Linked DNA regions of Homo sapiens. The protein of the gene in region 3 purifies or fractionates together with the protein of the main gene of each other region. This does not show direct contact. Each region holds a gene or a part of one and is shown on either strand. Other genes may lie near its edges.

What was found.
Region 1: the proteins of DNAJC15 (region 3) and TNPO1 purify together in Homo sapiens (affinity purification with mass spectrometry, with the first as the bait; one large-scale study listed by BioGRID). This does not show direct contact.
Region 2: the proteins of DNAJC15 (region 3) and LSG1 purify together in Homo sapiens (affinity purification with mass spectrometry, with the first as the bait; one large-scale study listed by BioGRID). This does not show direct contact.
Region 4: the proteins of DNAJC15 (region 3) and NSF purify together in Homo sapiens (affinity purification with mass spectrometry, with the first as the bait; one large-scale study listed by BioGRID). This does not show direct contact.
Region 5: the proteins of DNAJC15 (region 3) and DNMT1 purify together in Homo sapiens (affinity purification with mass spectrometry, with the first as the bait; one large-scale study listed by BioGRID). This does not show direct contact.
Region 6: the proteins of DNAJC15 (region 3) and DCAF8 purify together in Homo sapiens (affinity purification with mass spectrometry, with the first as the bait; one large-scale study listed by BioGRID). This does not show direct contact.
Region 7: the proteins of DNAJC15 (region 3) and IARS2 purify together in Homo sapiens (affinity purification with mass spectrometry, with the first as the bait; one large-scale study listed by BioGRID). This does not show direct contact.

What each region holds. Positions count from the first base shown.
Region 1 is NC_000005.10:72,882,661-72,886,160, reverse strand, and holds part of TNPO1 (transportin-1), read right to left. Parts: intron 3,098-3,500; coding exon 2,929-3,097; intron 1-2,928. UniProt on the Homo sapiens protein: Functions in nuclear protein import as nuclear transport receptor. Serves as receptor for nuclear localization signals (NLS) in cargo substrates.
Region 2 is NC_000003.12:194,651,692-194,655,191, reverse strand, and holds part of LSG1 (large subunit GTPase 1 homolog), read left to right. Parts: intron 1-2,049; coding exon 2,050-2,463; intron 2,464-3,500. UniProt on the Homo sapiens protein: Functions as a GTPase. May act by mediating the release of NMD3 from the 60S ribosomal subunit after export into the cytoplasm during the 60S ribosomal subunit maturation.
Region 3 is NC_000013.11:43,072,086-43,075,585, reverse strand, and holds part of DNAJC15 (dnaJ homolog subfamily C member 15), read right to left. Parts: intron 1-3,500. UniProt on the Homo sapiens protein: Negative regulator of the mitochondrial respiratory chain. Prevents mitochondrial hyperpolarization state and restricts mitochondrial generation of ATP. Acts as an import component of the TIM23 translocase complex. Stimulates the ATPase activity of HSPA9.
Region 4 is NC_000017.11:46,695,169-46,698,668, reverse strand, and holds part of NSF (vesicle-fusing ATPase), read right to left. Parts: intron 1-3,500.
Region 5 is NC_000019.10:10,135,954-10,139,453, forward strand, and holds part of DNMT1 (DNA (cytosine-5)-methyltransferase 1), read right to left. Parts: intron 2,653-3,500; coding exon 2,486-2,652; intron 2,057-2,485; coding exon 1,879-2,056; intron 1,328-1,878; coding exon 1,132-1,327; coding exon of another isoform or gene 1,123-1,131; intron 335-1,122; coding exon 168-334; intron 1-167. UniProt on the Homo sapiens protein: Methylates CpG residues. Preferentially methylates hemimethylated DNA. Associates with DNA replication sites in S phase maintaining the methylation pattern in the newly synthesized strand, that is essential for epigenetic inheritance.
Region 6 is NC_000001.11:160,228,050-160,231,549, forward strand, and holds part of DCAF8 (DDB1- and CUL4-associated factor 8), read right to left. Parts: intron 3,359-3,500; coding exon 3,248-3,358; intron 1-3,247. UniProt on the Homo sapiens protein: May function as a substrate receptor for CUL4-DDB1 E3 ubiquitin-protein ligase complex.
Region 7 is NC_000001.11:220,104,132-220,107,631, reverse strand, and holds part of IARS2 (isoleucine--tRNA ligase, mitochondrial precursor), read right to left. Parts: intron 1,742-3,500; coding exon 1,572-1,741; intron 572-1,571; coding exon 481-571; intron 1-480.

The DNA.
Region 1 (3,500 bases), on a different chromosome or scaffold from region 3:
AAAATATCATTTAACTGTTATGGGTAGGAACGTGTTCCTGAAGTTCATGTATTAGAAACCTAATCCCTAAAGCAACGAAGATGGGAGGTGGGGCCTATCAAGAGATGATTAGGTCTTAAGGGTTCTGCCCTCATAAATGGGTTAATGTCGTTACTGTAGGAGTGGGTTAGTTATCAAGAGAGTTGGCTTATTATAAGCGTGAATTGAGCTCTTAAGTGTGTCCTTCTGTCATCAGATGATGTTGCAAGGAGGTTCTCACCAGATGCAGCCCCTCCATTCTGAACTTCAGGTATCCTGTTATAGTAGTACAAAATGGACTAAGAAAATATCAGAAATTTCCAACGTGAACTAGGCATAGTAAATGGCTAATCACAAACTACTAGACAATAATAAAATCCTCAAAAAAAAAAAAAAAAACCAAACCAAACCAAAACAAAACCATTACATTGGCCAGAAATTAACACCTTACCCATCAATAAGGATCTTAGTTATACCACATGGTAGAGCCATACAACTAAACAGTACACTGACATGCAACAAAAGGAAATCTAAATCTGTATGTACTGAGGAAGAATGAGGCATACGATACACAGAAAGAAAGCAGCAGAGTACATATAATCTGATTTCACTTTTAGAAAACTGGCTTCTCCTCTAAAAAAGATGCCTGTATGTTTTCCCAAGCACGCACAGAAAAGCTTTTGGAAGGATACAAAGAATGGGATGTGAAGAGGAAGTGTTCCCCCATCCATGTATGTATATTATTTTGTAGAGTTTTCTGTGTAATGATCTTGAGCCATCCTGCTCCCCTAATCTGAAAGTAGGGATACACTGGGAAGTAATTTGTAATAGTAGTAAACACCATGTGTTGTCTTAACAAGTGAGACTTGGGTCCCAGTACTAGATGTGCTATCAGTACTAGCTATGCTAACCTTGGGTATATCTCTCTTTCTGCAGTTTTCTTGCCTATTCAAGGTTGTTGGAAATGTTAAATATGACTTTATTCTTACTTATGATTAAACAGACTTTGATATGCATGCAAAGTCCTTGGCCTAGTGCCTGGCACATTAGGCACTCTAAATAGAATGTTAGTTACAGGAAACTGAAGAGGCAACAGAGAAATTAGCATTATCTAACCAAATGAAGAACACAGCCCAGACTGATAATGTCTGTTCTTAACTGCTTTAATCATAGTTATTAGAAATCCCAACACTTTGAACTAGAGTAGTGGCTCTAAACTGGGGTTGATTTTGTTCCCCCAGGAGATAACGGTTGTCACAACTGTGTTTGTGCTGCTGGCATCTTTGGGTAGAGGCCAGGGATGCTGCTTAACATCCCACAACGTGCAGGACAGCCTCCGCAACAAAGAATTACATGCATGATGTGGCATTCACATGTAGAAAAAAAAAAAGAATTATGTGGCCCAAAATGCCAATAGTGCCAAGGCTGAGAAACCCTGAACTAGAGCAGTAGAGGTTTAAAATCCAGCAAACAAGCAAGCAAAATCAGAACACAGGTGTTTAGGTTCATCCCCAATTAGGAAGCGTGGGCCAGAATGCTAGCTCCACAGGTGATATGATTTGCAGCTAAGGTTGGAAATTAACATATTTTAAGAAGCATATTTCATAAATTTTGACTATAACAAAGCAACTTATAATAAATTTGAATATAATAAAGCAACTTATATTATTTTAGAATTACCTATGATAGCCAATTTTCATGCAAATTACCAGACAGAAAACACTCATGTTAGAAAAACCAAAAAAGCTTGTGGCAATGTTCTTACAGTATTAAAACAAACAGCCTTTTGAGAAATGGTAGTTTAAGAATATAATAATGATAAAATAAGAGCAGGTCCACCAGGAAAATGCAAACCAAAACCACAAAATACCACTTCACGTCCACTAGAATGACTATAATAATAAAGAGATAATAAAGCAAGTGAGCATGTGAAGAAACTGGAACCCTCCAGACAATGCTGCTAGGAAAGCAGAATGGTGCAGTCACTTTGGAAAACATCCTGGTTATTTCTCAAAAGGTTAAACATACAGTTACCATATGACCCCAACAATCCTTCTCCTGAGTGTTTACCCAAGAGAACTGAATACACATTGGGCCAGACACAGTGGCTTACGCCTGTAATCCTAGCACTTTGGGAGGGCAAGGCGGGTGGATCGCTTGAGCCCAACAGTTCAAGACCAGCCTGGGCAACATGGCAAAACTGTCTCTACCAAAAAAAAAAAAACAAAAATTCATCCAGGTGTATTGGTGAGCACCTGTAGTCCCAGCTACTTGGGGAGCTGAGGTGGGAGGATCACCAGAGCCCAGGGAGGTCAAGGCTGCGGTGGGCCATGACTGCGCCACTGCATAATCATGCTAGCCTGGGTGACAGAGACCCTGCCTCAAAACAAAAAAACAAACAAACAAACAAAAAAAGTCTACACACAAAAATTATACATGAGTATTTATAGCATCACAACTCAACAGCTACAAAAAGAGAAACACAAATGTCCACCAACCAATGAATGGAGAATATGTGGCATATTACAATGAAATATTATTTCACAATACAAGTGAATGCTACAAAATGAACCGTGAAAACTTTATGCTAAGTTAAAGAAGATGGTCACAAAGGACAATGCATTGTATGACTCCATTTACATGAAATGTCTAGAATAGGCAAACCCAGAGACAGAATATTGACTAGTAGTTGCCCAGAGCCAGTGAACAATAGGGAGTTACTGCTAAAGGGTATGGGTGATGAAAACATAGTCTACAACTGATTGTGGTAATGGTTGAACAGCTCTCTGAATATACTAAAAACCAATGAAATGTATACTTTAATGGGTAGTAAACTGTACAGTAGATGAATTATACCCCAATAAAGTTATCATCAAAGTAGGCAACTGTGCTTTTCCCTTTCTGACTTACTTAGATTCCAGTCAGAAATTGTATCATCATCATCAATTTCATCATCATCATCATCTTCCTCTTCAATTCCATCTTCATCATGCTGCTGAGCCACCGTCCTCGATCGGTGAAAACGTGGCCGTATATCCTGTTCACTATCAGGAATCGTTTCGTCTTCTTCAACATCACCCTGTTGTTTTTTTAAGAGAAATTTTTGGTGGCATTCATTATAGGCTAATAGTATGTACATGAGTAAGAGAAACAGAATATCCAGAGATGGGGTCATGCACAGAATTCTGAAATATACTTCCAGAGTGATTAAGAACCACGCCCATGTACAGAACATATTCCTTATGGAGGGGCGAATAGACTGACCTAACACACCTGTTAGGTTATACGGCCCTTTCAGCCAACTACATGGCCTCCACTGGCTGGTATAATCTAAGTTACCTGAATCAAATTCAGAGCAGCATATATAAGAATGTTTTTAAAATAACTCCAAGTAATTAAGGGGAAATTAATAATAACCCTACCAATGTCACCATCTAGTACCAAATTAAGCAAGAATTTATCATTACTTAAACTTATGCTTC
Region 2 (3,500 bases), on a different chromosome or scaffold from region 3:
AATGTCAGTGTCTGGATTAACAGTGTATAGTTTATGGAAGATATTCTTTCCTCCTTTTTAAGAGTGAGGCGCCATTTGCTTCTCCCAAGTTTTCTGGACTCTGCTGTTTTCCATGATTTCTCAGGTTGTGAAGTCTTACTTGTAACTTGATACTAATATCTGTAATTTGGGTATCAAACATGAATGTATTAGAAGTAGCCTGATATTCACTGTTTTCTTGCCTGGAAGTTTGGGTCATCTTCTATAGTTGTTCAACTTCAGTTGTTTGAAAAACGTGAATGTTCTGAAAAAATGTGACATTTTTCAAAAGACACAGGCCAATTCTGAGTTGAGTATCTCTGGTTTCCTTTGGTCACCTTGAAAGTGCACTGTGTTCCCCGAAAGCTTGACTTTTTCCTTCTTTCTTTTAATTTTTAACATAATTACGGCAAAGTCCTTTGATTGTCTTTAGTACTTTTCCTGAAGCTGAACTGCTCCCCGCTGTAGTTTTTCTACTACACATTCATGTTCAGTTCACATTCTTGTTTTTATGCTACTTTCATATTTGAAAATGACTCAAAAGAGCCCACAGTGACGACACTGACTTCTTTACCTTCGCTGCTCATTTACCATAGAAATTGCTTCCAGTTCTATATTTCTCTCATAAGCCAGGGTTCTTTTTGAGTTGCCAGGCTTGATTGTTAAATCATACCTATTTTTCCTGACATTTTGTTTTTATTTCTGCTTTCTTAAGATTTAGGATACATGTTTGAGTTCATCGTGTCCCCTTCTGTGACTGTTAATCATTCTAACAAAGCTACTTGGAAATGATACCAGGTTTCCATCACTTTCAAGTCCCGACAAATTCACCCTTATTTCTGCTTTGTTGTCAAGAGGGATTCAGAAGAATTAACACACCCTTGAGTAGAAAATGATTTGTACCTTTCACTTTCCAAAGGGAATCTTTCATCAGTAAATAATTTCCACATGTGGAGTTGAGTTTTGCTGCCACATTTCACACACAGGGATCTGTGTGTGCTCCATGGTGCTTTGACTTCTAAAAGCAATTATGAGAGAAGAGCAGATTTCTTTAAACATGCCAACCACCGTCTTTAAAAATACAAATGTAAAATGAACTGCAAATGGCAAAGTCTGCCCTTGCTTTGTGCAGAGAGGAGTATGTTAAATGTGTTGTTGTTCCTGAGAAATGCTTTGTTTTATCATGCAGCCCATTGCAAAATAACGTACTGTCAAGAGTTCAGTTTAACATAAGCTTTTCCCCTTGCTGTCTTTGAAGAGTTTTGTTGTTGTTGTTGTGGTGGTGGTTTTCTGTTTGTTTTTGTAGACACCCAGTCTTGCTGTGTTGCCCAGACTGGTTTTGAATTCCTGGCCTTGAGCGATCCTCCCACCTCCGCCACCCAAGCGCTGGGATTACAGGCGTGAGCCGTAGCACCCGGCCTAGAGTTATTTTAAATTACAAAAGTAATACATGTTCTTTGTACAGAGTTCAAATAGTACAGAAACATATAAAGTAAAAAGTGAAGGGAAGGTCCAATTCTCCCCTCCAGGAGGGCGCCACCCTCGATGGTTGTCTGTCACGGCACTGAACTGAAAGGCTTTCGTTGTCTCCTCCCTGTGTTCACCTTTCCATCTCCGTCGAACTTTGCTTGTCCCCTGTTCATCTTTTTTTTTTTTTTGTGAGACAGAGCCTTGTCTGTTGCCCAGACTGGAGTGCAGTGGCACCATCTCGGCTCACTGCACCCTCCGCCTCTCAGGTTCAAGCAGTTCTCCTGCTTCAGCCTCCCAAGTAGCTGGGATTACAGGTGTGCACCACCACGCCTGGCTAATTTTTGTATTTTTAGTAGAGGCGGGGTTTCACCATGTTGGTCAGCGTGGTCTCAAACTCCTGACCTCAAATGATCTGCGCACCTTGGCCTCCCAAAGTGCTGGGATTACAGGCTTGAGCCACCACGCCCAGCCATCCTCTGTCCATCTTACAACTCATTAAGTATTTTTACTAGAGTGGAAACTGCAGTTATATACTTCTGAGCGTTTCTATTATTTTGTCAGGAAGAGGCAAACAGAGATGATAGACAAAGCAACACAACCAAGTTTGGACATTCCAGTTTCGACCAGGCTGAAATTTCCCACAGTGAATCCGAACATCTCCCAGCTAGGGATTCTCCTTCACTTAGTGAAAATCCCACAACGGATGAAGATGACAGTGAGTATGAGGACTGTCCAGAGGAGGAGGAAGACGACTGGCAGACGTGCTCAGAAGAAGACGGTCCCAAGGAAGAGGACTGCAGCCAGGACTGGAAGGAAAGCTCTACTGCAGATTCTGAGGCTCGGAGCAGGAAAACCCCACAGAAGAGGCAGATACACAATTTTAGCCATCTGGTATCCAAGCAGGAGTTACTGGAGCTCTTTAAGGAGCTACACACTGGGAGAAAGGTGAAAGATGGGCAACTTACGGTCGGACTGGTAAGATGACATATGTCATAACATTGTTACCACGTGATTGTCTTTAATCCCCATTTTTCAGTAGCTGCACGACCCCAAAGACCAACCAGGCTTCCGGCATCGTAGGGAACATTGCCCTCTTGTTGCCCACTGGCATCACGGGATTAGGCAGTGGGATAGACAGAGCCCAACTCAAAGGAATCAACTTCCTCAAGGCCTGTGTTGGTAACATACCTATTCACATTGAATGTATTCTCCAGTCTCCTTTCAGTTCAGCTTTTCCTGCCGTGTGAAGTACCAAGACAGCAGAATGAGAGAGATGTTAATGTTGTCTTCAGACTTCAGCCCAGTGTTCTTTGGGCACCCTGTGATCCTTGCCAGCTTATGCTGTAAATGTTCCAGATGCTTAATAGGGAGAATCCCAGCATCTTGGGGCTGGACGAAATATGACAAATGCATTAGTTGCATAAACACTGCATAGTAGATAGGGGAAAGCAGATCCCATCCCCAGCCTTACATACCCTAATTCCAGAAGTGGCTGCGGAAGTGCGCAAACCCCGAGGGGCTACGACATGGCTCTAGATGGCCCCATCCTTAGCTAAGGAGATGTGAGATGTTAGAGAAGGTATTGATTATAAAGACCTATCCAGAATATAACAGTGAGGGAAAGGAGGTCATGGCATGTTTAAAGTCTCCCAGCTTTTCAGTTACATGCTAAGTGTAGCTAATCCTAGTTAGTTTTGAGCCCCCTTCTCTCTGCCCCAACCCCCTGCCCCAAAATGCCTGTTTAAAATGACTACAGTAGATTAGCATCTTATTTTAGTGCAGTAGTTAAAAGAGCTGTCTGTGGAATCAGACAGACCTAGGTGTAATTCCCAATTCAGCAGTAGAACTAACTTGTTAGGAACACGGGGAAAGTTGCTTAATGTCTCTGAGCTTTAAAGCTTCATTCTCTATATTGTTGCTAAAAATTTGTATCAGAAAGTTCAGCTTCTCTACAAGTTTTCTCACATTTATGGAAAAACTGAGCATCCTCCCTCATTTTCTGAATTTCTTAC
Region 3 (3,500 bases):
GGTAATTAGTTGATTTAGTCATAACAAAACAGAAGTATCACCAAATATTTGCTCCTACTTTTGTTTTTAAATCATGCCTGAACTACTACATAGAATAATTCTTTATTCAGGAAAAAAATATTTCAATGAGTCTTTATTTACCTTAGGGAGCTCTAAAATTTGGAGCCAGCATAATAAAAAAGATAAATTTATCATGTTTCATAAACTGTCATTCCCACTATAGTCACCAAGCTCATTAATCTTAAAAGCAGGTATTGGTATCTGAGCAATTTTTTCACTTTCAGTTTTGCCCAGGTAGACATAGAGTTTCAGAAAAGGCTGCCAAAAATCTAGTGTCGGGAAGAAGTTCATATGAACACTGATTTTATTACGAGTAAGTCAATCTGTATATACATATAATCAACACAACCCTTCCAAAAAGATCTAGACCATTTTGAGAATAGAGACTTAACATGTGGGGCTGGGTGCAGAAAAGTATACAAAGAGAAAACAAAAAATTGCTATGTTACACACTACTAAAATACATTCAACCCTCAGTATCTGTGGGTGACTGGTTCCAGGACCACTCATACTAAAATCTGCACTCAGGCACCACGGTCAGCCCTACAGAAACCACAGATACAAAAAGTTGGCCTCAGCATAGGTGAGTTTTGCATCCCATGAATACTACATTTTTGATCTACATTTCATTGCAGACATGGAGGGCTCATTGAGTTTATTTTTTAAAATCATGATTAAGTGGACCTGTGCAGTTCAAACCCAGGTTGTTCAAGGGTCAACTGTATTTACACATTTCTTCAGAGAAAATCATGCTTCCTAAACTTCTAGAAAATTTAGGTCTTATATAACTTTAAATAGAACAAAACTGTTATCACAGTATTTTAATCCATTATTATGTTTGAATTAATATCTATGTCATGAGAAAGCACAAAATTGTAACTCTGTACTCCTCCCCACTAATAAAACTGAAAGGTCCTTTTAAGCTTGAAAATAATATACCCACATTGCATTATATTAGGACTTACAGGTATAAGCCACTGCAGAACCATTTTCTGACAACACTGTGGTAGGTCAAAGAAAATGTTTAGATCCAAAAAATGAGATTACTGTAAGGAACAAGTATACCATCAAATAGATGGAGTAAATGGTCCTTTTTTTCTGAAAACAGAAACACATCCTGGACCTTACAAATGATTATTTTGTACTATCCCATTCATAAAATATTGTATATATAAATGACAGAAATCAAAATCATTTTCCTTCTAAAATTAGCAATAAATGCTATAGTGCCATGTTAGATTATTTTGTGTCTCCTTTGCTAAGTTAAACCAAAGTATTCATTAGCTAATTCATTCACTCAATAGCCTGAAACACAAAAGTCCTCCAGACAACTAGAGAAGAACTGGATCATCCCATAGTTTTAAAAGAATACATTTATCATAAACTATAAACTTTATTATGTACAATAATCTATTTGATTTAAAGCTAACAAAGGATGATTTAATTAGTATATTTTTCCATAAATTTCACTTGATCATAAAACAAAATAAATGCAATTTAAAAAATTATATTCAAATAAAAGGACAGATTCACAAATAGAAAATTCAAAGCCTCAAAAAAAAAAGAAGAAGGATGGGTTTTCTCCCCCAGAAAAAAATTTAAGGGTAATTAGACATTGGCTGAGTCAATAATATACATTAATACATTAATTTAAAAAAAAAACAAAAAAACAAGCAAAAGGGCACTTGTTCAAAAGAGCAGACTGAATCATAAAGATCTTTTGCTTTCCGAAGTGCCTTTGAAATGAGTAAAGACACTGTAAATTTTAAAACACCCTTAATAGGCCTAGAAAACAAGAAATGGGATAAATAGCAAACCAGAAAGTTTAAAGAAATCCTAGGTAAAATTTGCATGTACAGAAAAATCCCAGCAGCTTCAAACATCAGAGAAAAAAAGAAACCCTTTTCAGGAAAACAAGAACACTAAATTCAGAGTCAACAACAATAAAAAAATCAGCGAAACTTATTAAACCAGAACAATATAAACAGATCATTCCTACTCTACTCATATAGAGCATAAGAGGCCAGGTACCTGTCATGCCCTCAGGCTGAGAAAGAGAACCATATGCCTCTTTTTCTGATACGCATCTTATTTTGGGTGGTAGGTACTAAGAGAACCAAAGAGGCATACCAGCAGATCCCATTTCAGAACCCAGAAGCCTAGGGAGGTGAGAAGCTATGCCAAGGAGTAAAATATACACGGTGCTCAACCTCTCCTGGACTCTCCAGGTACCAATGCTGCCTTCTAGTCTCCTTGCTCTGAAAGACATGCCTGTTAACAAACCCACCTATGTTATTTACAGCCCACTGTCAACACTGTCATTCAATTAAGCTGTTGAAGCAACCCTACCAAACTGCTGAAGAAAAGTCAAGAACATTACTTCTATTAGTCAATTTAGTCATCATAAATATGAATCAACAACCAAGGATCACTGGACATTTGAGCAAACCCAATTATCATGGAGGGGAAAAAAAGAACCAATATGAACACATAACAACTGACTTTAGGAAAAGGAGATAAATTAGGAAGCAGAAGAGAATTTGGCCAAATGCTAATTAATGGCTTTAGAAATATTCAAAAGGATACCACATTAATTAAAAAATGGGTTGCCAGAAAAAAGAAACAAGAAAGAATCCTTGGAAGTTAGAAAATTACTAACGTTGGCCGGGCGCAGTGGCTCACGCCTATAATCCCAGCAATTTGGGAGGTTGAGGTGGGTGGATCACTTGAGGTCAGAAGCTCAAGACCAGCCTGGCCAACATGGTGAAACTCCATCTCCACTAAAAATACAAAAATTAGCTGGGAATAGTGACGAGTGCCTGCAATCCCAACTACTTAGGAAGCTGAGGTAGGAAAATCACTTAAACTCAGGAGGCAGAAGTTGCAGTGAGCCGAGATTGCGCAACCGCACTACTAGGCTCTGTCTCCAAAAAAAAAAAAAAAATGCTGATGTGAAGAATTCGGTGGATAGATGAAAAACAGAATAGACATTGCTAAAGGCCAACCTGGTGATCTGGAAAATAAGCTGTGAAAATACTGTAGAATGAAGAGCAAAGAAAGATAAGGAGATGGAAAATAAGAGATAAAATGGTAAGAGACATAGAGGACAGACATCTTTTTATCAGGTCCAACATCTTTCTCATCTCTCTGTTCAGAGTTCCAGAAGCAGAAAAGAGAGACAATGAAAGGAAGAAATAATAAAAGAAAAAACTGTAAGAAAATCTTACAGAACTAAAGACCATTTTCAAATAAGTTAGGGCTCACTAAGAATTCTTGTGAAATTCCAGAACATCAGTAAGAAAGAGAAAATCCTACAAACTTTCAGAGCTAAAAATAAAAGCCACCACCACCAAAATGTAAAACCCCAAAACCCAAACAACAAAAGAAAACCAAAACAATAGGTTGTCTACAATGGAATAAGAATAATAAGACCACCAAAA
Region 4 (3,500 bases), on a different chromosome or scaffold from region 3:
GAAACATGAACTATTTGCACTACTGCTTACTTGCAAATCAGAAGGATAATATATTATGTACAAGGGTGACAAACATTTTAGCTTTACAATTAGAAAATGTGTAACTACAAAGAGTCAATAAAAATCAGAAATTCATATATTGAAAAGTACTGATATCCTCTCAAATCAGCCAATTAAAAAAATGGAGATAACTAGCATTTATAGAGTTTACAAGGCACTTTTATATAAAGTATTTGCTTTCATTCTCATAAAAATCTGATTAGATAGGTAGTGTCTCCCCTTGACAGGTCAGAAACAAAAAGGTGGAAGAAATATAATGCATAACCACACCTTCTGACTACGATATCTGCGATCTTCCCACCATCCCTCATTGCCTCATATGTAGATAAACCCAATATATGCTTGAAGAAAGCATGTTTCTTACTGAGACAACGGCTTAAAGTGAAATTTTGGGATAGGATTATTGTAGTTAAAATGACAGATGACTAAATAAGAGAAAAATTCCATGGCCAACACATATGAAAAATATGACAACTAGTAAACTAGTTACTGTGGATTACATCAAGATGCACCCATGTGGTCTGAGATGAAAGATCAGTATGGTAGGGACCAGTTTTCACACTGTTTACATCATTTTTCTTGAAGTTGCCATCTCTTCTTATTAAAACAGTATAGCATGGCCGGGCATGGTGGCTCACGCCTGTAATCCCAAAACTTTGGGAGGCCGAGGCAGGCGGATCACGAGGTCAGGAGATCGAGACCATCCTGGCTAACACGGTGATCCCATCTCAACTAAAAATACAAAAACTTAGCCAGGCGTGATGGTGGGTGCCTGTAGTCCCAGCTACTTGGGAGGCTGAGGCAGGAGAATGGCTGAACCTGGAAGGTGGAGCTTGCAGTGAGCCGAGATTGCACCACTGCACTCCAGCCTGGGCGACAGAGTGAGACTCCGTCTCAAAACAAACAAACAAGGAAGAATAAAAACATAGTCCCTGAATGGATCCATTATATAAAGACCCAATACAATATTCCCACACCATCCAAACCTTTGGCATTCTTGAGCTAGAACAAATCCACCTCTATTATGTAGGGAAATTATGACTTATGGATAGAGCGTGATTCAGAATAGTTACGTAAGTTTACTCATTTAAAAAATATTGGCTGGGCATGGTGGCTCACACCTGTAATCCCAACATTTTGGGAGGCTGAGGCGGGCGGATCACGAGGTCAGGGGTTTGAGACCAGCCTGGCCAACATGGTGAAAACCCATCTCTACTAAAGATACAAAAAATTAGCTGGGCGTGGTGGCACATGCCTGTAGTCCCAGCTACTTGGGAGGCTGAGGCAGGAGAATCACTTGAACCCAGGAGGCAGAGGTTGCAGTGAGCGAAGACTGTGCCACTGCACTCCAGCCTGGGCGACAGAGTAAGACTCTGTTTCAAAAAAAAAAAAAGAAAAATAATTTACTGGACACCTACCATGTGCTCATTATTTAGATCTATCTGGGGTACTATGGGAGACTCTGAGGTGAATAAGATAAGGATTTAAAGTCTAGAACAAGGGCCAGCAAACTTCTGTAAAGTGGCAGATAGTACCTAAAATAAAAGCACTAAAATAGGCTTTGTGGGCCATGCAGCCCCTATTGCAAATACTCAACTCTGCCACTGTAGCATGCAGGCAGCCATAGACAGTACACAAATTAATGTGTACTGTTCCAAAAAAGCCCTTTATTTATAAAAACTGGTAGTTGGCTGGATTCCTGGTCTAGAACCAGTGATAGGATATACCCAAATATCTACATACTCAACCTAACTGTTCAGGCTTTTATTTCTTGCCTGAACTGTTATAAAAGCTCCCCCTCTTGTCCTGTGTCGCCAACTCCACTCCTCTAACTACTCCACTCGACAGAGCTGCCAGAGTGATCTTATGTTTTAACACTATGTCACTGCTATTCTTAAAACTCAATGGCTTAGCACTACTCACAGAAAAAAAGTCCATACTTCTTAGCAGAGTATAAAAGGCTCTTTGTGCTCCATCCCTACTTTAGTCTCCTGACTTATCCCCCACAATCTCTCTACCATCCCTCCCCTAACTTCCATGCTGAAGCAATACTAAACTACTCCAACGCACTATGCTATTCTGTGTCTCTGCTTCTTTGCATATGTTGTTCCCTCTACCTAAAAGGCCCTGCTCTACCAACAGACATGCATATGAAGGTTTCTCTCACCCCACAAGTTGACCATATCTGACATGAGTTCACTCTCTTGCCTTGCATGTACTTTCTGTTACTGCACGTGGAGGGTTAGACTGAGGGCAGCTTAATGGTAGGTACTTTACTTCTTTGCAGTCGGGGTATTAACTCCTAGCACAGGGTCTAGCATGCAGTAGATGCCGAATAAATCTACTGTGAACCAAAGTCAACTGACAGTACCATAAATGATACATTACTATTTCAAGAAGGAAACGGGTATAACATTCTTGAAAGGGAAAATGTGAAAAGGTGTGAGGACAGTGGTAGCATATGAGCCAGGTTTTGAAAAGACAGGTAAACGTAGAGGATGAAGATCCTCAGTGATGCAAAAAAAACAAAACCAAAGCAGAGATGTTGAAAAATAAATTAATGTCTGATGACCGGTGATTATTTAAGTTTGGCTGAAGTATGTGGAGAATAATCAGGAGCACATTTGGAAAGGCCAGTTAGGGTCAGATCTAGAGGACCCAAAAGACCCAAAAGAAGCCTGTACTTTGTTTTGTAAATGATGGGGAATCACTGAAAGTGTCTGAATGGTTGAATGATATGATACAGGAAGGTTAATCAAAGAGAAGGTGGGTAGTGGCAGTGAGAACTAAAAGGCACTGCCAAGACAGAACTGAAAAAATTTGGCAAGTGACTTGACCTAGGGCACAGTAGAGTGCCAGGAATCAAAGATAATCCTGATGTTTTAAGCCTGGGAAATTGGGATAAACAGGGAAATGCGAGCAGAAAGGAAAGTAGTAAAAAAGACAATAAATTTGGTTTTGCAATATTAAATCTGAGACCTGATAAAACATCTAGGTGAGGGTATTTAGTACAAATCTGAAAGTAGGAGACAGATATGTTCAGTAAATCTGTCTACAGGTGGTAACTAAAACCTAAAGGAGAGAAGAGATGGAAGATCAAGAGCACTTTATCAAAATAAAAGTATCCTAGTACGTATTTCTACCATGGTAACTACAATATTATTGTACTAATTTGAAAATATGTCCATTTTCCTGACTCTGAACTCCTTGAGGGAAGAGTTCACAATTATCTTTATGTCTCCAGCCCAATAGCTTGAACACATCAACTATTCAATATATTTGCTGAATAAAGCAGCCCCCAAAATTCTAGTACGTGGAAACTCCCACTTCCTCTGACATATTACAACTTTTTTTTTTTTTTTGGAGACGGAATCTCGCTCTGTCACCCAGGCTGGAGTGCAGTGGCGCAATCTCAGCTCACTTCAAGCTCTGCCTCCTGG
Region 5 (3,500 bases), on a different chromosome or scaffold from region 3:
CTTGGCCTATGAGCTTGTCCCGTGGACGTGGAGGGGCAGGAGGCAGAGGCCAGGTGCCTGGGGTCCTGGGGTGCTGTCCCCCACTTGGCTAAACCCACACTTCCACCTAGTTAGGCCGCCAAGTACAGGGCCTGACCCAGGCCCTCGGATGCCCCCTCCCCACCTACCTGCTTGCCCATGGGCTCGGGGTTGGTGACGGTTGTGCTGAAGAAGCCGTCCCACTCGAGCCTTCCATAGAGGCCAGCCCAGTGGTTGTGCCGGTTCCCGGTGTGGGGCAGGCACCAGGGGATGAGGGTGTTGAACTGCCTGGCTGCGGGGTCGCAGGCTTTGCCGGCTGGAAGACAGGACAGTGATGAGGCTGCAGTTGTGGGATGGGGTATAGGCTTGGGACAGTGGCTCTTAGAGCTTTGGGAGGCAGAGATGGCACCTCCTGTGCAAGGGGCCCCCTGGGGTGGAGCAGCCAACAATCCTCGTTCTCTGGGCACTGTTTTTATTATTAGTATTATATGTCTCGCTCTGTTGCCCAGGCTGGAGTGCAATGGCATGATCTTGGCTCACTGCAACCTCTGCCTATGGGGTTCAAGCGATTCTCCTGCCTCAGCCTCCCAAATAGCTGGGATTATAGGCGTGCGACACCACGCCCGGCTAATTTTTGTAGTTTTAATAGAGATGGGGTTTCACCATGTTGGGCAGGCTGATCTCGAGCTCCTGATCTCAAGTGATCTGCCTGCCTTGGCCTCCCAAAGTGCTGGGATTACAGAGGTGAGCCATCGTGCCTGACCTGCTTTTATTATTTATTTATTGTTTTTTTTTTTTCTTTTTAGAGACAGGGTCTCACTCTGTCTCCCAGGCTGGAGTGCAATGGCACAATCACAGCTCACTGTAGCCTCCTCAACCTCCCAGGCTCAAGTGATCCTCCCGCCTTGGTTTCCCAAAGTGCTGGGATTATAGGTGTGGGCCATGAACCCAGCCTGCTTTTACTACTCAACATGGTCAGCAGCTACCTTCTCTGGGACACCCAGGCTTGGTGTGTCTGTGCCCTGCCCTGGCCTCCAGGTTCACAGGCCAAAGGCCCAGGGCTCTGCCTTCCTTCCCCTCAGCCCACCGGGAACCACAACTTACAGGACCCACCTTCCACGCAGGAGCAGACCCCACGGAGGGCCCCAGAGCTGCTGCGGCCGTTCTTCCTGTCATGGTGGGTATACCGCAGCTTCCTGGCCATGGTGCCGTCTGAGAGCCGCACCTCGATGTTGGGCAGATCGCGCCAGTCTGACCCTGGGGCCAAGGGGATGTGCCGCATGCGGGCAGCCACCAATGCACTCATGTCCTGAAAGAGTGTGGGGGGCCCAGCTGTCACCTCATGTGAGCAGCATCCGAGCATCCATGGTGGGCTGGGAGCTGGGAACACCATGGTGACCAGGAAGCCCCCTGGGGCTCACGCCCATCGGGAAAGAGACAGTCAGGGATATCGCACTTGGCTCGAGGCCACGGCAGGGACCTGAGGCAGCGCAGGTGTAGGAGAGCGTGGGAATCTAAGCTGAGCCTTTAGGGTGGGGGAAGGGGAGTGGTGCCAGGGGATGGTGAAAGGGCTGGTCTTGGCATCCTGGGAAAACATGCGGGGAGAGGCAGCAAGGGGGAAGGCAGTGGTGGGTGGGCAGTGGCTTGACACCATTCCAGACCAAGTCCAGGACTGCGGGAGCTCTGACACTTCCCATGACCATGCAAGAGAGACCAGGGGTCACACAAAGGCTGAGGACTCGGGAGGAGGAGCCTGGGATCAGATTCCATGTCTCCCCTGAGTCTTGGGCAGGCTGACTGTTCCCACGAGGCTGCTGGGCTGGGCCTCGAGGAGGAGCCGCTCTGTCAGGGTGCCATTACCTTACAGATGTGGTCCCTGAGGATGGGCTGGTACTGTGCGCCCCGGAGCTGCCTCTGGAACCAGGACTGAGGCTCCCCGTTGTAGGAGATCTCCAGTGCCGAGGCTCCATTCCGCACCTCCGGCAGGTCGGACATCGTGTCTCGCACCGTGATGGTCCGGAAAGGACCCGAGCTCAACCTGCAACAGAGGAGGAGGTCAACACCTCTGGAGATGCACGCAGCAGCTGTCCCCTCATCACAGGTGCCACCCCCTGCCTGCTCAGATGGCCTTCTCCCGAGATCACAGCACTGCCCGAGGTCACATGGGTGGCAGTGTGCCTGGATGCCATCTGGAAGGGGGGATGGGGCTATGGCGTGGGCTTTGTGGATGACCACAGCCAAGCATGCGGCTGGCCGCTCTGCACATGCTATCTACTAGGGAAGCAGATGATGCAGGGTCAGAACTGGAGACCACAGGTGGCAGAGTGCCATGTGGCAGAGCACCGTGTGGCAGGGCAGATGCTGTACCATCCTCTCCTCCCCAAGCCTCACCAGGGAGTACTCACGGGCCCCATGAGCTACTGAGGCCTGCTCGGCAGTGTGTGGAGGAGCGACGGGGGCCACCTACCTGGTTATGTTGCTCACAAACTTCTTGTCATCCACCACCACGCTCAGCTGGCAGGCCCGGGGAGCAAACACGTGCAGTGGCTCCGGGAACAGAGGGAGCTTCTCTCCAGGGGCCGCGGCCAGGATGATGGCCCGCCTCCTAGTCTGGGCCACGCCGTACTGACCGGCCTGTGGGGGAGAAGGACGGACAACCCCACCGTCAGTGGGACACTCCCAACTGGACTGGCCAGACCCAGGCCCAGGGTCAGCAGCCTGAGTCGGGAGTGGCTGGCCAATGCGGAGTGCACTTGCAGAAATCCCCAGTTACCTCAGCAGGCGTGCTCCTGGTCAGAGGAGTTTGGAGCAGATAAAGAACAAAAGCAGCTGAGCCCAGGGGACAGCCACTGGGGAAGGTGGGAGCAAACCCTGCGGGGAAGTCCGGCCAGCTCTGAAAGCACTGCAAGGGCCCCAAGGTCTTAGCACTCGGGGAGAACACTGGAGACCAGGAGCCCTGTCGCTTCCCTGATGGCTGTGGTCACAAGGACAGAGAACGTGGCTGCAACAAGTCTTGTCTGGTGAGCCTGAGTCGCCCTGAGGCTGAGCTAGGGGACCGGGTAGCCAAGTGCTTGCCCACTTAGGCAGACATCCTGTGCTAGCATCTGGATAGCTGTTTCATTTTTAATTATGCCCTCAATTGCTGAGCTGATACAGAGAGGATGGGGGATGCTTTTCAGATAAGGCCTGGGCCCCACAGACTATGTCCATCCCTGTCCCTGCAGACACAGCCACCTGGAGTGCAACCCTCGGCCATCTGTGGGGGTTTGTGTGCGCAGTTACCCAGAGCAAAACTGTCTTTTAAACCAATCGAACAGCTGCCGCCTACACATGGCTCTGCGCACCTCACTTCCCCTCCCGCTCTGTGCAGACTCAGCCATTCCACAGTGCTCCATGGTGGGCTGCTCACCCTTCCCCATCGAGGGAAAGGAGCCAGGAGCTGCATGGCGAGAAGCCCATTGTAGCCAGCCCTCCCAGGCATG
Region 6 (3,500 bases), on a different chromosome or scaffold from region 3:
CTGGAGATATTTAATTAATTAAAAAATTAAAATTTTTTCTTAATTTTTTTTTTTTTTGGTAGAGACACAGTCTTGCTATATTGCCCAAGTTGGCCTTGAACTTCTGACCTCAAGCTATCCTCCAGCTTTGGCCTTCCAAAGTGCTCTAGTTTTATAGTCATGAGCCACCACACCAAGCCCCTTGACATTTTAAGTCACGTAAGGAATAGTGTGCACACCTTTACCACATCTCTTCCCACATGCCTTCAGGCACCCACTAACTTGTTACCCTAAGTCTCTCTTCTATACCTGCCTTTAATCTAATGTTCTCTCAGTGTTGCTGATGTTGGCTTAAGAACTGGGGAATGAAGAGATGATTTACTGACTGTGCTTCATCAATCAGGGCCTATACTTAATCCTTTAGCAATAAATTTTCATGTCAGCCAAATTTACCACTAAAGGATTCACCTGATATATTCTCTTTTTCTTTACCCCTATAAATTCTTAAAACTAAGCTAAGCAGGAATTAGCTTAGCTTAGCAGGTGTAGTAGGGACTCACACCTATACCTCCTCTACTTACCTTTTTTTTTTTTTTGGCCACAGGCCAAAAAGCATGTCTCCCCAGAGCTTCCCTTAAATACTTTTTAATAACCCTAAACTAAAATTCAGTATTAATGATGCAAAAGCCTTGAGGATCAGTAAGCTATTTCTCTATATTCCCTTGAAGTAATTCCTTTAGGCTAGGAGTGAAAGTTAATGATGTTATGATATATAATATTCAGCAAAAATGTTTTCAAATTTATACCAGAAGATGAGCTGTTTGGGTTCTTTCAAAGGAAGAATAAGAAAGGAGAAACCTCAAAACATTCAGTTGGCTGCACAGGAGAGGTGCCAGAGAAGTTGAGTGTAACCTAATGTCAGAGAAGAGCTGGAGTGCTGAAAGGGCTACCTGCTTGTGTAGGATCAGCGTGCCTCAAAATCTTCACATAGCCAGGCGCGGTGGCTCACGACTGTAATCCCAGCACTTTGAGAGGCCGAGGTGGGTGGATCACTTGAAGACAGTTCGAGACCAGCCTGGCCAACATGGCAAAACCGTATCTCTACTAAAAATACAAAAATAGCCAGGCAAAGTGGCACATGCCTGTAATCCCAGCTACTTGGGAGGCTGAGGCATGAGAATCACTTGAACCCAGGAGGCAGAGGTTGCAGTGAGCCGAGATCGAGCCACTACACTCCAGCCTGGGCAACAAAGTGAGACTCTGTCTCAAAAAAAAAACAAAAATCTTCACATAACTTCTGCCCAGTAAATAGCCAATAGAGGAATATTGAGGCTGATAAGACACAGAAGATTTGAGTATTTCTCCTTGTGTTGAAATGCTAAAACTCTAAGCCTTACTCTAACCCTGGGAAAGTATCAGCTTTGGGTTAAGGCAATATGATATACATATCATATGAATACATATGAATACATACATACATATGAATACAGTTCTCAATACAGCAAACTACTACATTCCCCTCCAAACATCTTGGTCCTAGTGGTGGAATTTGTTAGAGACACAGACTTTTCAAGTAATCTGGAGCTCTAAGTAGGAACTCTCAACTCAAAATTTCAGTGAATGCTCAACTTGGAGGAGGTAGCAACTGAAAATCTATACAAACTACAACCCTTTTTGATCAACAGCTTCTTATTTAAAAATAAAAAAAATTGGCCAGGCACAGTGGCTCATGCCTGCAATCCCAGCACTTTGGGAGGCCAAGGCGGGCAGATCACCTGAGGTCAGGAGTTCGAGACTAGCCTGGCTAACACGGTGAGACCTCGGTTCTACTGAAAATACAAAAAATTAGCCAGGCGTGGTGGCGTGCACCTGTAATCCCAGCTACTCGGGAGGCTGAGGCAGGAGAATCGCTTGAACCCGGGAAGCGGAGGTTGCAGTGAGCCAAGATTGTGTCACTGCACTCCAGCATGGGTAATAAGAGTAAAACTCTGTCTAAAAAAAAAAATCTATGGCTACACATTTAAGGACTGTTGGTGACTAGAGGAAACGAATTTTGAAGGCATGGGAATAGGGGAAGAAGAGAGAAACAAGGTTTTGTCCAGGATTCTTGAACAAGGCAAAGTCATCTCATGTATTTTCTAAAAATTTACCCTATTCCCCATGATTCTTATTAATAAAATGAATCTGGAAATATAGCTATAAAATGTGCTCTCATTTCAAAAGGAAGATGATGCTTTTCACTTACCATTAGGAAAGCAAAAAGTCACTCATTTTTCTAGTGATCTTGCCCCTCTCTCTCCTTTCAAACTGATGAGCCCAAAGAAACATAGTTAAAATAGGCCAACTGGATAGGGATGGATACAGCTTATTACTAAGGGTCAGAGGAAATTAACTAATACATATGGAGACTGAATCCACAGTGTCTGTTTTCCTTAGGTCATGTCTCAAGAGCCAGTGTTAACAAAAGGTGTTCACGGTAACAAAGATATCACTATGGATAAAAAAAAGTGGTAGCTCAGGACAGTGAGAGCCAAAAAACCCTCAGTTCACACTAAGTGCTCCCAAGTCAAACTATTTCTGAATTGAAAACCAGTATTTAAAATTTCTAGTGCACGTTTATTTACATACGAAAAAGGTAGATTATTTACTAATATAGTACTTGCTGGTAAACCTAAATTTATGGCTTAGCTGCCACGTGAGGACCTTGGTCAATTCATCTAACTTCTTTTCTTTTCTTTTTTGAGACAGAGTCTCGCTCTGTCATTCAGGCTGGAGTGCAGTGGCACAATCTTGGCTCATTGCAACCTCTGACTCCTGAGCTCAAGTGATCCTCCTGCCTCAGCCTCTTGAGCAGCTGGGACTACACGCATGTACCACCATGCCTGGCTAATTTTTGTATTTTTTTTTTTAGAGACAGAGTTTTGCCATGTTGGCCAGGCTGGTCCCAAACTCCTGTCCTTAGGTGATCCACCCGCCTCACCTCCCAAAGTGTCGAGATTACAGGTGTGAGCCACTACACCTGACCATCATCTAACTTCTTTAAAACTTGATAATCTCTAAAATATGTAAAGTCACCCCTCAGAGACTGTTACATTAGAGAACAGAACATCTCCAAAGGCGTGTAAGATTTTTGGAAAACGGTAAAAAATTCAAGATAATAGTTAATGGATTCCTATAAAATTCGTAACTCTCCATAAAGGAGCACCTGGTAGTATACAATGCATCAGTCTTACAAACTGTCAAAGACACAAAAGAGCCACAAACTCACCTTACAAACTGATCTCGTCCACCCACTGCAAACTGGTGGGTATTGGCAGGATTCACATAGATCGTATACAGCCCCACTTTCTTCTCTTTCTCTTTTGTCACCACCAGTTTCCTTTAAGAGTAGAAAAGCACAGAAAGTTATATACTCCAAAAGATCCAAATGGTCATGGCAAAGGAGAGCCAAGAGAGTCACATGGCTAATAAGAAACCAAAGAGATTCTCATTTGGAAAGAAAGAATTGTTGTGTTTTCTCT
Region 7 (3,500 bases), on a different chromosome or scaffold from region 3:
AATAGCCTTAGTCTTAGTGTGGGCAAAGAAAGGTTTTCATAGCACTTGGTCTCTGAATCTGTAAAGGAAGACAGAAAGACAATTCAAGGCTGGAGGATTCCCAAGATTCTAATACATAAATCATGCCATATAGGTCAGTTATTTACAAGGGTTAAAAAGTGAGTAGGGAATGTGTAATTTACAGTCAACATCCAGCCCTGATCTTGATTGTATCCTTCCACAAAAGTAATACTGCTGATTATTATCTCCATAGCCCTAAAATAACTTCACTCCCTGTTGACTGCCCTGACTTGCTTAAATAAAGCAGCTTCAAAGCAAAAGATGAAAAAGTCCCAAACTCCATTTTAAAACATATGGCAAAACAAGACATAATTTATTTTTTTGTTTCTGTTAAAGTATAAGGAGGGAAAATAGGTAGCAAAGGTTACTGCTACCTACTTTTCAGAAAACATGTATGATATCAACAGATATGATGCTCACCCACATCAGTTCCCTCTTCAAGGACAGCCTTGTTTTGAAGTTCAGGACCTGCAACATCTGTGAAAACTCCATCTTCGTCCACTAGACAATCCTATAAAGTATCATTTTGAACAATTAAAATATCAAGACATTTTCTCTTATGACAATATCTGGCAAAACAATATATATAAAAACATCTCAGTATAGCCTGGTCTTTTTCTACATTGAAATTCTAGGTACTTGGCCGGGCGCGGCACTCAGGCCTATAATCCCAGCACTTTGGGAGGTCGAGGTGGGCAGATCACTTGAGGTCAGGAATTTGAGACTAGCCTGGCCAACATGGTGAAACCCACTTCCACTAAAAATACAAAAATTAGCCAGGCATGGTGGTGTGCACCTGTAGTCCCAGCTACTCGGGAGGCTGAGGCAGGAGAATCGCTTGAACCCTGGAGGTAGAGGTTGCAGTGAGCCGAGATCATACCACACCACTGCACTCCAGCCTGGGCGACAGAGCAAGACTCCCTCTCAAAAAAAAAAAAAAAGAAAAGAAAAGAAAAGGAAATAGGAATTTGTGAATTTTATACATTTAAATCACCAAAGCCAAAATGTGTTATTGAAGCATATCCATAAACTTTAATAACAAAAGTAACAAAATATATTAAAACATCTTTGAGTGGTCTCTATTGTTTCCAAATCTATGCCTATATACACAGTTGTTCCCTTTCTGACTCACCTTTTAACTAAACGGAAATACTTGCTAAGTAACTGAAGTATGTAAAGTAAATGTAGAAAGGACTGTTTAGCTAAAACAAACAGGCTTTTTCAGGGAATAAAAGTAATTTGTCTATGTGACTTGATACTAGAAAAAAAGTATTTTAAAAGTGCCCCATGATATATATTCTTCAATTCTAAAGTGCTAATTTTCTATTAATTCTGGGAAATCTTTTTCAATTAGTACGAATTAATGAAACTTTAGAGTACTACACAAACCTGAGCATTTCACAATTATGATGACAAAAGTCATCATTTTTAAAAAATGAAGATGTTGGTTAGAATTTATCATTTCCTTTTATTAAGATGAATAATTAAAAATGATAAAAGAGGAACAGTACCATGGGCAGGTTGTGCTGAGACGCTACACCGTAGTCTTCCATACCATGAGCTGGGGCTGTGTGAACCAATCCCGTTCCTTTTGCCATGGTCACATGATTTGCAGGTAAAAGAGGAGAGGCTTTATCAGGAATTAATGGATGACTGCAAGTACCATTTTCCAAATCTACACCTGTGGGGAAAGAAAACCACTATTAAGAATCATTTTATATGGCAAATCTATCTCCTTAAGCTTAGCAATAGAGTATCAGGTTAAATGTGCAGAATCTAGAACAATACTGGCTAGGCTTAAATTCCAGCTTCCCCTTTAACTTGTTCTGTGACCTTCTATAATCTATAAAATGCAGATAATTATGGTTCCCACCTCAGAGGGTTTCTGTGAGAATAAACAGAGTTAATGTAGTTTAAGTGTTTTGATACTTACTGCATCTACCACTTAATATTCTCCCTCACCACCCTCCCAAAATGATCTCTAAGTAATTGATAAGAAATAATTCATTTTTTTCCGGAAAGAAAACCTACCCCATACAAATTACTTCATTTTTAGCTCTTCAACATTCCTACTACTTTAATAAGTAGTAGCTACGTGACACCAGCTTATTTTGACAGGGATAATATATATACTCCTCCACAATATGGTGACTCAAATAGCAACTCAATAATTATCTGATAGTAAGAATTTGAAACAATTATGCTATCTAGACAAAAGATCTTTAAATTCAACCTTAACACTTTCAAAAATCTTGTGATTTTTAGCTTCTATGATAATGTATAACTTGACAATGAAGTCTTTAATATCCTCTGCATTTATAAAAGAGCAGGGGGCTGGGTGCAGTAGCTCATGTCTGTAATTGCAGCACTTTGGGAGGCTGTGGCAGGAAGATTGCTTGAGCCCAGGAGTTTGAAACAAGCCTGGGCAACACAGTGAGAGAGGGTGTGAAGTAAATTATTATCTTGGTTTTTATTTTTATTACCCTATTGCACCAAAGAGGACCAAATGGTCTTCAAAATTCTTAAGCTCCTTTCCTGCCTCTGACATAAAAATCTTTTTATTTTTGTTAAGGTTGTTTAAACTTCTCATTGGCTTGTATCTGAACTGATTAATTTAGAGGGCTTTCCTATTTAGCTAGGCAGTCTTTCTAGGCAGTTTTTGTATCTTTATTCATGTGATAGATTTTTTAGCAAGAAATTAAAAGATATATCATACCTAAGGATCAAAGATAATTTTAGCCCAGGCATGGTGGCTCACGTCTATAATCCTACCACTTTGGGAGGCAGAGGCAGGAGGAACACTTGAGCTCAGGAGTTCAAGATCTGCCTGGGCAACATAGTGAGACCTCATCTCTTTAAAAATAAAATAAAATAAAATAGAATTTTAGTCCAGGCACAGTGGCTCATGCCCATAATCCCAGCACTTTGGAAGACCAAAGCAGGAGGATCACTTGAGGCCAGGAGTTCAAGACCAGCCTGGGCAATGTAGCAAGACCTCATCTCTACCAAAAAAATTAAAAATTAGTCCAGCATGGTGGCACACACTTGTAGTCCCAGCTACTCAAGAGGCTGAGGCAGGAAGATCACTTGAGCCTAGGATCCAGAGGCTGCAGTGAGCCAAGATGGCACCACTGCACTCCAGCCTGGGCAACAGAGCAAGACCACGTCTCAAAACAAAATGAAGAACAACAACAACAAAAAGCTAATTTTAAACTTCCCTAGACTTCCATAATTATATTTCAAAGCAGTCACTACCTCAAAAGTCCCAAATTATAGCTCACAAAGAATTATTTTGGGCTAGGCACAGTGGCTTACGCCTTTAATCCCAGCACTTTGGCAGGCCAAGGCAGGCAGATCACTTGAGCCCAGGAATTCCAGACCAGTCTGGGCTACACAACAAGAATTCATCTCTGTAAAATATTTTTTCAAAATTAGCCGGG